Homo sapiens: one gene and its partner. The protein of the gene in region 1 purifies or fractionates together with the protein of each later gene. This does not show direct contact. Each region holds a gene or a part of one and is shown in the gene's direction. Other genes may lie near its edges.

The links.
Region 2: the proteins of OSTF1 (region 1) and ADI1 purify together in Homo sapiens (affinity purification with mass spectrometry; one large-scale study listed by BioGRID and IntAct). This does not show direct contact.

Annotation. Positions count from the first base shown.
Region 1 is NC_000009.12:75,091,505-75,095,158, forward strand, and holds part of OSTF1 (osteoclast-stimulating factor 1), read left to right. Parts: intron 1-3,654.
Region 2 is NC_000002.12:3,499,636-3,502,622, reverse strand, and holds part of ADI1 (acireductone dioxygenase), read left to right. Parts: intron 1-1,629; coding exon 1,630-1,809; intron 1,810-2,987. UniProt on the Homo sapiens protein: Catalyzes 2 different reactions between oxygen and the acireductone 1,2-dihydroxy-3-keto-5-methylthiopentene (DHK-MTPene) depending upon the metal bound in the active site.

The DNA of each region.
Region 1 (3,654 bases):
TGCACATAAAGGTCAGCCCCTGGTTGACAGCAAGGAGAGTGGTGTGGAGCTTTACTTTCTTGTCCTGCAGGCAAGCTGCATGGATAAAAATCTCCAAAGACAGCATGGGATTGGGGGCTTTGGGGTTGTATTTAATTTTTTGGTTTGTTTAAACCTTGCCTCATTCCAAAAGGACTTCTAAAAATACACATGATCTGAGAGAGAGGAAAAAGTAAAGATAAAGCATGGTCATCTAGAGGAAGGGAAGAATAGTAAGATGAAACAAGAGGAAAAGCTAGCTTACAGACAGACCTGCATGTGTAGTAAGGTCACTGTAGATTTGGCTCTCAGCTGCAAGCAGAGAGAAAAATCTCAAGATTCATAGTGCTCATAAAATTAAAATGTGTCACTTACTCTGAAAAGTAGTTATTTTAATGGCATTGAGATCTGAGACAGATTTTCCTGTGGGTTCTCTTAAAGTATTGGAGTGGCCTGGATATCTCTAGCAGAAATACAAGACAGAACATCCTAGCCATGTTTCTTACAGCTTCTTTCAGAGCAAGATTTGGGCAAAACAGCATGGCTCAATTCAGTAGACAATACTAAAAGGAAAGGAGCTAGGTGAGTAAGGACAAAGGACTTGCTGGAAGATATTAAAAACAAGGGACATTAAGCTATAATGCAGGCTAATAGCATCTTTCTGGCTGATCAGCACATCCCCAACAGGGGGCCGATTTGTGGAAGGAGGCTGCCCAGGGAAGTCCCGGGCAGATGCTAGTGGGAGACCCTGGCCATTTTTGTACCATCTGGAGGATAGATCAGGGTTACCTTGTTTGGGTTTTTGGCCATATCCAGAATTCATTTGCTAAACAAATGTTTCTTAATAAATGTAGCTCATATATTAGGCCCTGTGCTAGACACTGGGGTTCCCAGGAACAATAATCTATGGTGTCATTCACGAGGGTCCTGAGTCTAATGGGGAAGACGTATGTATCTACAGATATTACCTAGAGTATCCCATATTTACAAGTGGATGGCTGATCTCATTCATTTTGTTTTTTTTAAAAAAGCTTGTAAGTAAAAATATAATTTTTTTATTTTTAGAAAATTTAGAAAAAGGTAAACAATAAATATATAACTAAAATATAGGAATCATCCCTGTCATCTACTGATAATCACTATTTACATTTGGTTGAATATTCTTTCAGGTTTCTTTCTTCTTCACATCCATTTCATTTCAAAAAAGAAAATAAAAACAATTACCCTCAGAACAGCGTCTCAGCTTCCGTTTGAAAAGTCTTGCTGTTGGTTGGCATATGTTTCCAAAAGGCTATACGGTATTGCCTGCATTCTGCTTGAAAAATCAATTCTGTCGCAGTTTGACCTTTCCTTGCTTACTGATTTTGTTTCTGTAGAATCACTTTTGGCCACACAAGGTCTGTCATTGAAACTTTCTCCCTTAACTGTTATCTGTGCCACCATGGTACTCTACTAAGATGTGTTGCAATTTCGTGGTCTTCAGCTCATTCTTTATGATACCCTCTTTCTTTCTTTCTTTCTCTCTCTCTCTTTCTTTCTTTCTTTTTTTTTTTTTGGAGATGGGATTTTGCTATGTTGACCAGGCTGGTCTTGCTCTCCTGTGCTCAAGCAGTCTTCTTCCTTCCTGAGCTTCCAGAGTATCTGGAATTATAGATGCTCACCACCAAACCTGGCTGAGACCCTCCTTTCCTTTTTCTGAATGAGTACAACCTCTTAGTTTTACACATATAGCATTTATGTTGTTTTCAGCCACTCTCAGAAGCCTTGCAGTTCAATTAGCGTGAATCTGTCTGGCTTGTTAGAGTGTAGAAGTGTAGAAAACAGAACTTTTGTTCTTGTAAAATCTTTTTAAAAATATTTTATTCTGAGAGTAAGAATGGGCCAAAGGATACTGAATGAGATTTGGGCTGTAGAATCATCTCATTCTAAGCAGGTTTGGTAACTATCTATTGTAGTTGGAAACCTGGTGTCTGACCTTGGCCATTTTTTCCAAATGGCTTATTGATTTTGGTGGTGAAAGTAAAGCATAAATATTTCATGTGCCTTGTGAAAATAAATTCATGGAACTTTGAAGAAGCAAATGTCAGTGTTTCAGGTTTTTTTGTTATTCAGAGTAAAAACATCATAAAACTTAAAAGACATCACACGCATGCTGCTTAAATAACATTTTTGAGAAAAAAAGGTTTTTATCTAAAATGAACTTAATTTTTATGTATTTTTTACCCCAACAAAGGAATTAATCAAAAGTGAGGTGAAATATGCACGTGAATAGTCTTCTTTTATAAACTTGATACTTTTTATACCTGTTGGCAGAATAAAGCCTGAGAAACATCTTGAAAATTTCACAATGATGATGATGATGGGAATGGTTAACATATATTTGGCCCCATATGTCAGGCACTGCACCCAGCACTGTGTATGCTCTGTCTCCTTTAATTATTCTGACTTTCCTATCAGGTGGGTGGGTCCTCATATCCCTGTTTTATGGATGAAGTAGTACTTAATGAGGTCAAGTAAACTATCTAAGATCTCAAAGCTAGTGAGTGGTTGGTGTGACCTGGAAGTGGAACAGAAGCTTTAATTGAGTCCATGCATATGAGCAGAGAAACCTGCCAGAGATGTTATTGGGTTGGACCTGCTTTTGTTGGACAGTCATTTTATTAGCTTATGCAGTTGTATTATTGGTATTTGGTTTGTGTAACTGCCCTCTTTCAATGGATCCGTATTAGAGCATTAAACTATGCACTTTTTGAGAGTGGAACAGTCTTTTATTTCTTTGTAACTGCACAGCCACTAAATCGTTATGAATGACAGATAATGTAAAACGCTTTGATACAAAAAAAAGGTGGGTTTTTTTTTTTTTCCCTGAAAGAAGGTGGGGGTGGACTCAGAGACTGTGATTGGGCTTTTCTTGTAGCTTTACTACAAAGTAGCAAAGGCTGGAGGTTATGTGCTTCTGATAAGCATTCCTCCCTTCTGGAAATACTGGGGTCCCCTCCCTTGGCGTTTCAGCATTCCCACAATTTGACTTACGTGACTAGTGCAGTGAGATTTTCTAATACACACCTTATACCTCAGGGCATAACAGAACCCATTGCCAAAGTTGTCCTCACTTGCTTAATGGACAGGGAAAGACTACATTAAAAAAAAAATGATACAGGGACACCTTTCAGTGGGCTGATATGAGTGAGGTGTCAAGATTCTCTTATCAAATTAAAGGAGTTTCAGAAAAATGTACAGGCCAGGCACAGTGGTTCACACCTGTAATCCTGGCACTTTGGGAGGCCCAGGCAGGCAGATTGCTTGAGCCTAGGAGTTTGAGACCAGCCTGGGCAACATGGTGAAACCTTTTCTGTACAACAAATATGAAAAAATTAGCTGGGCTTGGTGGTGCGTGTTTGTAGTCCCTGCTACTTAGGAGACTGAGGTGGGAGGATCACTTGAGCCTGGGAGGCCAAGATCGTGCCACTGCACTCCAGCCTGGGTGACAGAGCGAGACCCTGTCTCAAATAAACAAACAAACAATACAACACAAATATTAGAACCAGGAGAACTTCCTGGTTCTTTTAAATAACTACATAGTATTCTGCTGAGCTCATTTAACCAGACCCTAATTAACGTACTTCTGGATTGTTT
Region 2 (2,987 bases), on another chromosome or scaffold:
TAAAATTAGCTGGGTGTGGTGATCATGCCTGTGACCCCAGCTACTTGGGAGGCTGAGGCAGAGAATTGCTTGAACCTGGGAGGCGGAGGTTGAAGTGAGCCGAGATCGCGCCATTGCACTCCAGCCTGGGCAACAAGAGTGAAATTCCGTCTCAAAAAAAAAAAAAAAAAAAGAGCTATTTCCGTTTGTCTTTTCTTTCTGTGTGGCTATGAATAGACTGATTTCAAATTTAAGGTTTTCCTCCTAATCTTGTTTTCATTTTATTTATGATTTTGTAACACATAACAAGGTAGGCTGGGGGCAGTGGCTCATGCCTGTAATCCCAGTGCTTTGGGAGGCCAAGGCAGGAGGATCACTTGAGGCCTGGAGTTTGAGACTAGCCTGGGCAACATAATAAGACCCTGTCTCTAGAAAAAATTTTTTTAAAAAATTAGCCAGGTATGGTAGTGCACGCCTGTAGTCCCAGCTACTGGGAAGGCTGAGGCAGGAGGATCTCTTGAGCCCCAGAGTTTGAGGCTGTAGTGAGTCATGATTGTGCCCCTGCACTCCAGCCTGAGCAACAGAGTGAAACCCTGTCTCTGTGTGTGTGTGTGTGTGTGTGTGTGTGTGTGTGTGTGTGTGGAGCGGGAGGTGTGGAGATATGAACAGTGCAGGCAGAATCAGATTATAAGGGCACAGTCTTGGTGAAGGGGGTATGGATATTTACTGTAAAATACTCTCAATGTTTTTGCATACTTGAATATTTTTATTATAAAATATTAGGAAGAAAACACTTTCAGAAAGACACAAAAGTCAGACCAGGCGTGGTGGCTTCCACCTGGAATCCCAGCACTGTGGGAGGCCGAGGCAGGTGGATGACCTGAGGTCAGGAGTTTGAGACCAGCCTGGCCAACATGTTGAAACCCCATCTCTACTGAGAATACAAAAATTAGCTGGGTATAGTGGTAGGTACCTGTAATCCCAGCTACTTGGGAGGCACGAGAATCGCTTGAATCGGGGAGGCGGAGGTTGCAGTGAGCTGAGATTGTGCCACTGCACTCCAGCCTGGGCAACAGAGCGAGACTCCACCTAAAAAAAAAAATACACAAAAGTCAATGTGAAGACATAGAAAATGCTTGTGGAGTCTGTGCCTGCCTCCCTGCAATGTCCACTGGCTTCTCACTCACCCTGTGTGTTGTGATTTCATGACTGCTGTGTGCAGCACACTGGGTGGGTGTGAGCATGGGGCCAGGGTGTCTTTGGGGCAGTCTCGTTGTGTGAGGTTGGGCCAGTGACTTAGCCTCTCTGTGCCACCATTTCCACATCTGTAAAACGGGGCTGATAGAGCAGCCACCTCGTGGGGCCGTGCGGGTTGGGTGAGTTGGCCTGTGTGAAGTGTTCAGAACCTTTGCTTCAGGTCTGTTCACTTTCAGTTACTGCCCATTTGTTGACAGGTTTCATAAAATATTCTAGCTCTGGCCCTTGTACTGTTAGGAAAATAATTCTTAGCAAGTGTAGTTTCATTTTTATGGAGAGAAGTCCCATTCACCTCAGCTCTGGCCCACCAAAGGCTCAGGCTGCTGAGTGGGTGGGTGTGAGCTTGCGTGACAGGTCTCTGGTAGACTCACAGGAATGTTCCTTCTGCACTAGATTAAGATGTTCTACGAGGAGCATTTGCACTTGGACGATGAGATCCGCTACATCCTGGATGGCAGTGGGTACTTCGATGTGAGGGACAAGGAGGACCAGTGGATCCGGATCTTCATGGAGAAGGGAGACATGGTGACGCTCCCCGCGGGGATCTATCACCGCTTCACGGTGGACGAGAAGGTGGGAGTGCTGTGCTTTCTCCCCAGGCCCGGCCTGTGTGGTGGCCCTGGCCGTGGCATCTCTGCCGCTGAACTGCGCGGCTTCCGCAGACTCCAAGCGCGGTCGCTGGGCTCGGGACTCCTCGACCTGTGCTTCAAGGAGAGTCTGTGGAGCCGCAGGCGATGTCCGAGGTGACAGCTGTCCTTCCGTGGCAGCCTCCGTGGCCCCTGCCTGCGATCCTGGTGGACAGGTGTGCATTTCATACCCAGGCGGGGCAGGTACAGGCGGCGGCAGGTACATGCGGCGGCAGGTACACACCCACGAGCCTGGCCCTGCCCCAGCCCTTGCTTGGCGGTGAGGCATCTCTAGGGTTGTCACCCCAGCCCGTGTTTGGTGGTGAGGCGCCTGTAGGGTTGTTATGTTGCCATACTGTCACTTTTAAAAACATTTCAGTTTTGGAATTGAACAGTAACGCAGTCCAGTCAGGATTGGCAATAAACACAGATAAGGTAGTTTTGGGGTTCACTGGAGGCGATTGGGGTAATGCTGATTTAAGGGTAATTTTTGAATAAATACTAAATGCACATGGTTTAAAATTTAGAAATATGAAAGGGGACCTGGTGAAAGGTCTCCCTCTGACCCCTGTTCCCAGCCTCCCAGTTTCTCTCCCTGAAAGTAACCAGTATTCCACTAAAAAAATTATTTTTAGAGTGACTTTACACATATCCAAGTGCATGTCAGTCAGGATTCTTTTTTTTTTTTTTTTCTTTGAGATGGAGTCTCACTTTGTCGCCCAGGCTGGCATGTAGTGGCTTGATCTCGGCTCAATGCAACCTCCACCTCCCAAGCTCAAGCGATTCTCCTGCCTCAGCCTCCTGAGTAGCTGGGATTACTGGGGCACACCACCACGCCCGGCTAATTTTTGTGTTTTTAGTAGAGACGGGGTTTCACCATGTTGGCCAGGCTGGTCTCAAACTCCTGACCTCAGGTGATCCACCCACCTTGGCCTCCCATGGTTCTACATTTTACTTTTTTCTACATGATGTTCACTGGGGACTGTTTCATTTCAGTGTCTACAAGCCTCAGCCCTGATTACAGCTGCACAGTACTCTGGCGCTGGACATGCTGTACTGTATTTAACCATTAATTTATTTCAGTGAGTCATTGACCCCCAACAATGAGTATATACATTGTTCTCA